2 linked regions of the Homo sapiens genome follow. The protein of the gene in region 1 purifies or fractionates together with the protein of each later gene. This does not show direct contact. Each region holds a gene or a part of one and is shown on either strand. Other genes may lie near its edges.

Evidence for each region. Proteins that work in one complex are often made in the same cells at the same time.
Region 2: the proteins of USP13 (region 1) and SMC3 purify together in Homo sapiens (affinity purification with mass spectrometry; 4 studies listed by BioGRID and IntAct, with this or other methods). This does not show direct contact.

What each region holds. Positions count from the first base shown.
Region 1 is NC_000003.12:179,651,058-179,654,806, forward strand, and holds the start of USP13 (ubiquitin carboxyl-terminal hydrolase 13), read left to right. Parts: upstream 1-1,982; 5' UTR 1,983-2,168; coding exon 2,169-2,336; intron 2,337-2,600; exon of another isoform or gene 2,601-2,615; coding exon of another isoform or gene 2,616-2,693; intron 2,694-3,749. UniProt on the Homo sapiens protein: Deubiquitinase that mediates deubiquitination of target proteins such as BECN1, MITF, SKP2 and USP10 and is involved in various processes such as autophagy, endoplasmic reticulum-associated degradation (ERAD), cell cycle progression or DNA damage response.
Region 2 is NC_000010.11:110,584,584-110,588,332, forward strand, and holds part of SMC3 (structural maintenance of chromosomes protein 3), read left to right. Parts: intron 1-3,749. UniProt on the Homo sapiens protein: Central component of cohesin, a complex required for chromosome cohesion during the cell cycle. The cohesin complex may form a large proteinaceous ring within which sister chromatids can be trapped.

The DNA of each region.
Region 1 (3,749 bases):
GACTAGTTTCTTGTGTATTGCTCTAGAGACATCCTAAAGCCAAACAAGTGGGCATGCATACACATATGTATATTTTAAGGGGCTACATTAAAAATATTTACTACAAGTACAACCAACTGGAATGAAGGCCCATGGTATATAGGATGTGCCAAAATGCCTACTGCATATTATCAGCCTTGCATGTATTCCTTGCTTTTATACACTAGTTTGCTTAAATTGCTTTTATCATCTAGTAATAATTTGGAGATTGTTCCACATCAGCACACGTAGAGCAACTTCATTCTTTTCAATGGTACTGTATTTTAACCACTTTCTACAGAAGGATCTTTAGGTTTTCCCCAGACGTTTGTTACTCGAAACAGTGCTCTAACAAATATCTTTACACAGCCTTAATTTATCTGTTGCATAAATGTCTAGACAAGGAAATGCTGGGGAAAACAGTATGCACATATAAAGTTATGACTGGTATTATTACATTTCCTTCCAAAGAGGTTTATCGTTTTTATCCCCACCAACAATGTAATGAGGGTCTACTTCCCAAACCCATGCTAACTCAATATATCTTTACCAGCCCAAAGGATGAAAAACAGTGTCTCACTGATTTAATTTGTATTTAATCTAAGATTAAATTTTAAGTTTTGTAAAACCAAGTTTATCTCTGTAATTGGAGAAAACATCATCCATTAACGTGAAAGGTAATAAGCTGATGAGACTAAATTCAAAGCAAAAGCTCGCTGAGAGGATCTGCCCAATGAGGAAGATGACAGTAGTGTCTGATTTTTTGCTCAGTGCCACCTCCTCCTTTTCCAACAGATAGCATTTGGGAGTGCTGAGTTATAAGAAAGTGTGGTGCGCTCGAGGCTTGCTTGAGGGTATGGAAATCTTGAGATAGGTCTGGAGAACCAGGGAGAGTTAAAAGAGAAAAAAAGTAAGAAAAAAAAAAGAACTTAAGGACTATCTGATCTGAGAGAGGCTTACAAAAATTAGCGTTTTGGTTCACTATTTCTCGCTATTTCTGCATTTCATTAACTGGCAGGGATCACTGGATACTCTGTCATGAATACATATGTTGGGTGTAGTTAGAGAACCTCAATGTCATTGAACCCGTCTTGTGGGTTTTTTGGAGAGAATGAGAGTATGCTGGGAGACATGCTCTGCTTGCAAATGATCAACCCCCGAGGCCAACCCCATTCATCATTTATTTTGAGGAACTGATGATCAAGACAGGAATATGTATGCCTGCCTACAAAATCCTCAAATCAGGCCACTGAATGTTCGACATGAGAACTTTGAATCACATAGAAGATACTCCAAAGGCAGAGAAAAATAGAAAGCCTTCCGACGCCCTGAAAAAATCTTGACCATCCCTGACTTCCCCCAATATGTAAGAAAACCTGTATTATTATTACACACACACTCCCACACACACCCCGCCCTCCCCCACACACACACCCTCTATCCTCACTCGATCTTATTCTATTCGCTCTATTTTTGAGCCTTGGATGTTAAAGTAAGGAACGAAGCTTAGTGGGGAAGCACTGAAGTGCATGGCGCAAATTTAGATTTAAGCCTCACGTTAGATTTCAGATTTGCACATCGAGTCCCGCCCCTATCCAATCCGGGGACGTCACCGCCCTAGTCTTCGGCTGTTTTAAAAGCAAGCGGTTTTTAAAACCCCCAATCCTGCTCTTTGTGTTGGCCTCCTCGGAGTTGCCCCTCTGCAAGCCAACAATTCGGGATAGAAAACACCTCCGTGGTGTTTTCCCGGGGCCCTCCCGCGCCGCGTTCGGCCGCCAGCCCGCTCGAGCTCCCGCGCCAACGCCTCAGGGGTTCGCCCTCCGCCCCCCGCCGCCGCGCCCGGCCCACGCGCAGGGCCCCTCTCCAGCGCCCCCTCCCCGGCACGCTGCGGCTGGCGCTCCCCAGCCCCGCCTGACGCTGCAGCTGGGCCGGAGACTCGCCATTGGATTAAAAATAGCGTCGCCAGTCCGCCCCAAGCCCGCGGTGCCCGCTCCCGCCCCGCAGCCCGCTCTCCCCGCCCGCCCCGGCTCGGCCGGCTGCCGTTGCCCGCGCAGCCCGCCCGTCAGCCCGCTCGCTGGCGCCGCCGCCGCCGGCAGACCCCGCGCTCCGGCTCCGGCTCGGCTCGCTCGGCTCCGGTGCGCGCCGAGGCCATGCAGCGCCGGGGCGCCCTGTTCGGCATGCCGGGCGGCAGCGGAGGCAGGAAGATGGCTGCAGGAGACATCGGCGAGCTGCTAGTGCCCCACATGCCCACGATCCGCGTGCCCAGGTCCGGCGACAGGGTCTACAAGAACGAGTGCGCCTTCTCCTACGACTCTCCCGTAAGTGAGGCGCCTCGGGGGAGGGTCGCGGGGCCGGCGGCCTGCGGCACGTGAAGCCGGGGGAGAAGATGCGCAGTGGCGGCCGGGACCTCTTCTCTTCCTCCGGGCGGCAGAGTTGGCTCAGGAACACTGCAGTTCGGCAGACACTTAGTGAGCGCCCCAGGGCTGCTGCAGCCGAGGACTGGCTCGTGCTGGTGGTTTTGCTCCGCCAGCCTCCCCAGGCTGGAAGGGCCCGATTCCCAGCAGCTTGCACACAGCCCCGCCGCCGTTTAAAGATAGATGAAATACAAGAGTTCCCTGTTCCGAACTGCACGTTGCAGATCGTTTGCGTCCTCCGCGGGGCAGAGCGCAGGGCGGGTAGGTGGACGGGATGATCCCCCCACACCCCGGGACACACACAGCCCTTCTTTTTCTGGGACCACTTGCTTTGCTCAGGGATCCCCACTTCTGGACAATTCTGATTTGCTCTCTGAGCTTTTCTTCCACCAGTTCCCATTTCACCCCACTCCTTTTCTTGTCTTTAGAATGTCAGGGCCAGGCGCGGTGGCTCACGTCTGAAATCCTAGCACTTTTTAAGAGGCGGAGGCGGGCGGATCGTTTGAGGTCAGGAGTTCGAGACCAGCCTGGCTAATATGGCGAAACCCCATCTCTACTAAAAAAGAACCCCAAAATTAGCCGGGCGCGGTGGCGGGAGCCTGTAGTCCCAGCTACTCGGGAGGCTGAGGCTTGAGAATCGCTTGAACCGGGAAGGAGGAGGCTGTAGTGGGCCGAGATCGCGCCACTGCCCTCCAGCCTGGGCGACAGAGCGAGACTCCGTCTCAAAAAAAAAAAAAAAAAAATGTCAGACGAAACCTTCCGGTGCCTCCACTCGGGCAGCAGAAATAGGGGATCTACTGGATTGCGATGGTTTTCTTAAGCCTTCCCCACCTTGCCCTTCTAAATGAGTCACTTGGACTGACATGCGCAAGTATAAATTATTAAAAGTTCAATCCCGAGTCGTGACCTCGGAGAATGAGGAGGAAGCTGAGAGGGATCGCCGCCTTCCACCCGGGGCGGTTGGTGGTGGTTTTCACCTGGTTCTATGTGAATGTGTGAGAAGCAGCAGGAGGGTGAATGTCCCTTTCAAAAGTCAAAATGGGCTTCAAAGTGACTCAGCTGTCTGGCGTTTATCATGTCTTTTTGAGGACCAGGTTATTTTTATCCACCCACTTTAGATCTCATATGTCACCCGGCAGATCTCAATGCATTGGGAGGCGCATGGATTGGATGGACCGAGGCAGGTCTCGCAATGGTCTAATGTATTTTATTCATAGCATGTGGACTATTGTCAGAGGGGAAAAGAAAAGTCCAAATGAGCGGCAACATTTCCAAAGTTTCCTTTATTATCTGTGGGTTGATTTTGGCTGGCTTCAA
Region 2 (3,749 bases), on another chromosome or scaffold:
CATTGAGCCTTTATGTAGATTAAGTATATTAAAATGTATGTATGTATTTTTAATTTTTTTGAGATAGGGTCTTGTTCTGTCACCCAATCTGGAGTGCAGTGGTACAAACACAACTCACTGCAGCCTCCACCTTCCAGGCTCAGCGATCCTCCATCCTTAGCCTCCTAACTGGGACCACAGGCATGTATCACCAGGCCCAGCAAAATTTTTATTTATTTTTTTGTAGAGACGAGGTCTTGCCATGTAGCCTAGGCTGGTCTCGAAATCTTGGGCTTAAGCAATCCTCCGACCTTGGCCTCCCAAAGTGGTGGGATTAGAGGCATGAGCCACTGTGCCCAGCTTAAAATATGTTTTTATGAATTGGTAGCATGTGTCTTACATACCCTTAATTTAACAAGATGTCACAACATATGTCTAAAATAGCTTGTTGGTAACTTTTTTTTTTTGAGATGGAGTTTGGCTCTTGTTGCCCAGGCTAGAGTGCAATGGCGCAATTTCGGCTCACTGCAACCTCAGCCTCCTGAGTAGCTGGGATTACAGGCATGCACCACCAAGCCCAGCTAATTTTGTATTTTTAGTAGAGATGGGGTTTCTCCATGTTGGTCAGGCTGCTCTCAAACTCCCAACCTCAGGTGATCTGCCTGCCTCAGCCTCCCAAAGTGCTGGGGTTACAGGCGTGAGCCACCGTGCCCAGCTGATAGTAACAATTTTTTTTTTTTTTTTTTAATACGAGTCTCACTGTGTCACCCAGTCTGGAGTGCAGTGGCATGATCTCAGCTCACTGCAACCTCCACCTCCTGAGTTCAAGCAATTCTCTGCCTCAGCCTCCCGAGTGGCTGGGATTACAGGTGCCTGCCACCACGCCCGGCTAATTTTTTTGTATTTTTAGTAGAGGTGGGGTTTCACCATCTTGGCCAGGCTGGTCTTGAACTCCTGACCTCGAGATCCACCCACCTCAGCCTTCCTAAGTGCTGGGATTGCAGGCGTGAGCCACCATGCCCGGTGTAATTTTTTTTTTTTAAAACTTCATTTTTTGGTATTCCAGCATCTTATGTTACATTTAGTTGTCATGTTTCTTTTATCTGCTTTAATCTGGACCAGTTCTTCAGTTTTTTCTTGACTTTTGGGACTTGACATTTTAAATTATTTGTTATAAAGTACATATATTAATATTTATGTACTTATTAATTGTATATTATATATAATTATTTGTCCCTAATCTCTTTTTTTTGGAGATGGAGTGTTGCTCTGTCGCCCAGGCTGGAGTGCAGTGGCGCGATCTCGGCTCACTGCACCCTCCGCTTCCCGGGTTCAAGCAATTCTCCTGCGTCAGCCTCCCAAGTAGCTGGGACCACAGGCACATGCCACCACGCCTGGCTAATTTTTTGTATTTTTAGTAGAATGGCGTTTCACTGTGTTAGCCAGGATGGTCTTGATCTCTTGACCTTGTGACCTGCCTGCCTCGGCCTCCCAAAGTGCTGGGATTATAGGTGTGAGCCACCATGCCTGGCCCCTAATCTGTTATAGTGATTTGCCCACTTTAAGTTTTTGGTGACTCACCTTTAAATGTATCCAAAACCTCAGTGAAGTTTTAAAGAAAGAGCTGTTTACTTTGTACTCATATTCTCACTTTACATAAAGAAAAAAATATATAGTGGGGAGAAAACACAACAGCCTCTGTAGGCATAAACAATAGGTAGGTAAAATTGCGAGGAGTGTAGCCTGCTGTTTTTGGAAGTCCAGTCGTGCTGTGGGTTTTAGTTGTGATACTTTGTGGAAGGAGTGGAAAAGTTGGGTTAATCCAGGCAGTTCTTTATATGGTTAGTATAGTCTGAACTGATAGTTAACACCTCCTTTCTTGAAATAAAATGAGTTTTCTCTTGAGTTTATGAAACCAACCTCAGCAGATGCCCTTTTTGAAGGTGCCTCCAGTGAGAGAATTTATTCATTTTTTGTCATGCTTGAAGTTCATTATTTTCCAGTATTCCAGCCACACTTTTGGTTATCAGAATGACCACTTGTAAAGATGAAGCCTTTCCTTTGGACAGAGATGATTTTATGGCGCTGATTTTGTTATGTAAATAGCCTTTTTTTTGAGACAGCCCCACTCTGTTGCCAGGCTGGAGTGCAATGGTGCGATCTTGGCTCACTGCAACTTCTGCCTCCTGGGTTCAAGCGATTCTCCTACCTCAGCCTCCCATGTAGCTGAGATTACAGGCGCCCGCCACTGCTCCCGGCTAATTTTTGTATTTTAGTAGAGACAGGGTTTCACCATGTTGGTCAGGCTGTTCTCGAACTCCTGACCTCAGGTGATCCGCCCACCTGAGCCTCCCAAAGTGCTGGGATTACAGGCGTGAGCCACCGCGCCCGGTGTAAATAGGCTTTTGCCTCTTGGTATAATCCTAAATTAATTTTTCCACAGTGTATTTTTAAAACCTGCAGTATGAAAAATAAAATGTCTTTTTGGTGGTTTTATTATGCTTTATTACAGTTCATTTATGTGATACATATCCTACATACTTATCAAACTTAAGTTTTTAGACTTTTCTAACTTATGTCAGTGGTATCTTGGCCGTAGCAACTGCTGTGGAGAAGGGGAAGCTCTTAGATAGTTTCAGTGCAAACTAAATGTTTTCTCTTTTCCAGGTTGTAATGCATTTAATAAAGTCTACAAAACATTATATTTTGAATTTAATATAGGTAGCTTACTTTATTACTGGTTCTGAGTAGCATCATGGTGTCAGAAAGGGAACCATTAGTGTTCAGATACACCTGGAAAAAAACAAAGTATGTAGGACTTAAGAAATACTGTAAGCTGCCAGGCGCAGTGGCTTACGCCTGTAATCCCAGCACTTTGGGAGGCCGAGGTGGACGGATCACGAGGTCAGGAGATCGAGACCATCCATCCTGGCTAACACGGTGAAACCACATCTCTACTAAAAAATATAAAAAATTAGCTGGGCGTGGTGGCGGGCGCCTGTAGTGCCAGCTACTCGGGGGGCTGAGGCAGGAGAATGGCGTGAACCTGGGAGGCAGAGCTTGCAGTGAGCCAAGATTGCACCACTGCACTCCAGCCTGGACGACAGAGCGAGACTCCGTCTCAAAGAAAAAAAAAAAAAAAAAGAAATATTGTAAGCTGTAATGCTAGTTAATAACACAACAGTCTGAATTGTTTAGGACTGTAAAAGTTGAAACATTAATTTAGGAAAACTGACTCTTCAAGGTTTATACTCTTCTTTTAGCATGTGTTCAGATAGCCTGGGGATGAATTAAGTAATTGCTGCAGAAAAGTTAAATTTTACCTAGGGAATTTGTTAACTCTTTTATGGTTTCAGATACCACTGAGTCCCAAATTCCTTATGTGTAGAATTAAAGGGTTTAATTATCCAAGATGTTAAAAGTCATTCTGATTATCCAAGATTTTTTGAGACAGAGTCTCGCTGTGTCACCAGGTTGGAGTGCAGTGACACAATCTCAGCTCACTGCAACCTCCCCATCCTGGGTTCAAGTGATTCTCCTGCCTCAGCCTCCCCCAGTAGCTGGGACTACAGGCGTGTGCCATCACGCCTGGCTAATTTTTGTATTTTCAGTAGAGACGGGGTTTCACGATGTTGCCCAGGATGGTCTCCATCTCTTGACTTCATGAGCTGCCCACCTCGGCCTCCCAAAGTGCTGGGATTACAGGTGTGAGCCACCGCGCCCGGCCAATCTAAGATTTTGTGACTCAGTAGTAACATTGACTTTTTGTC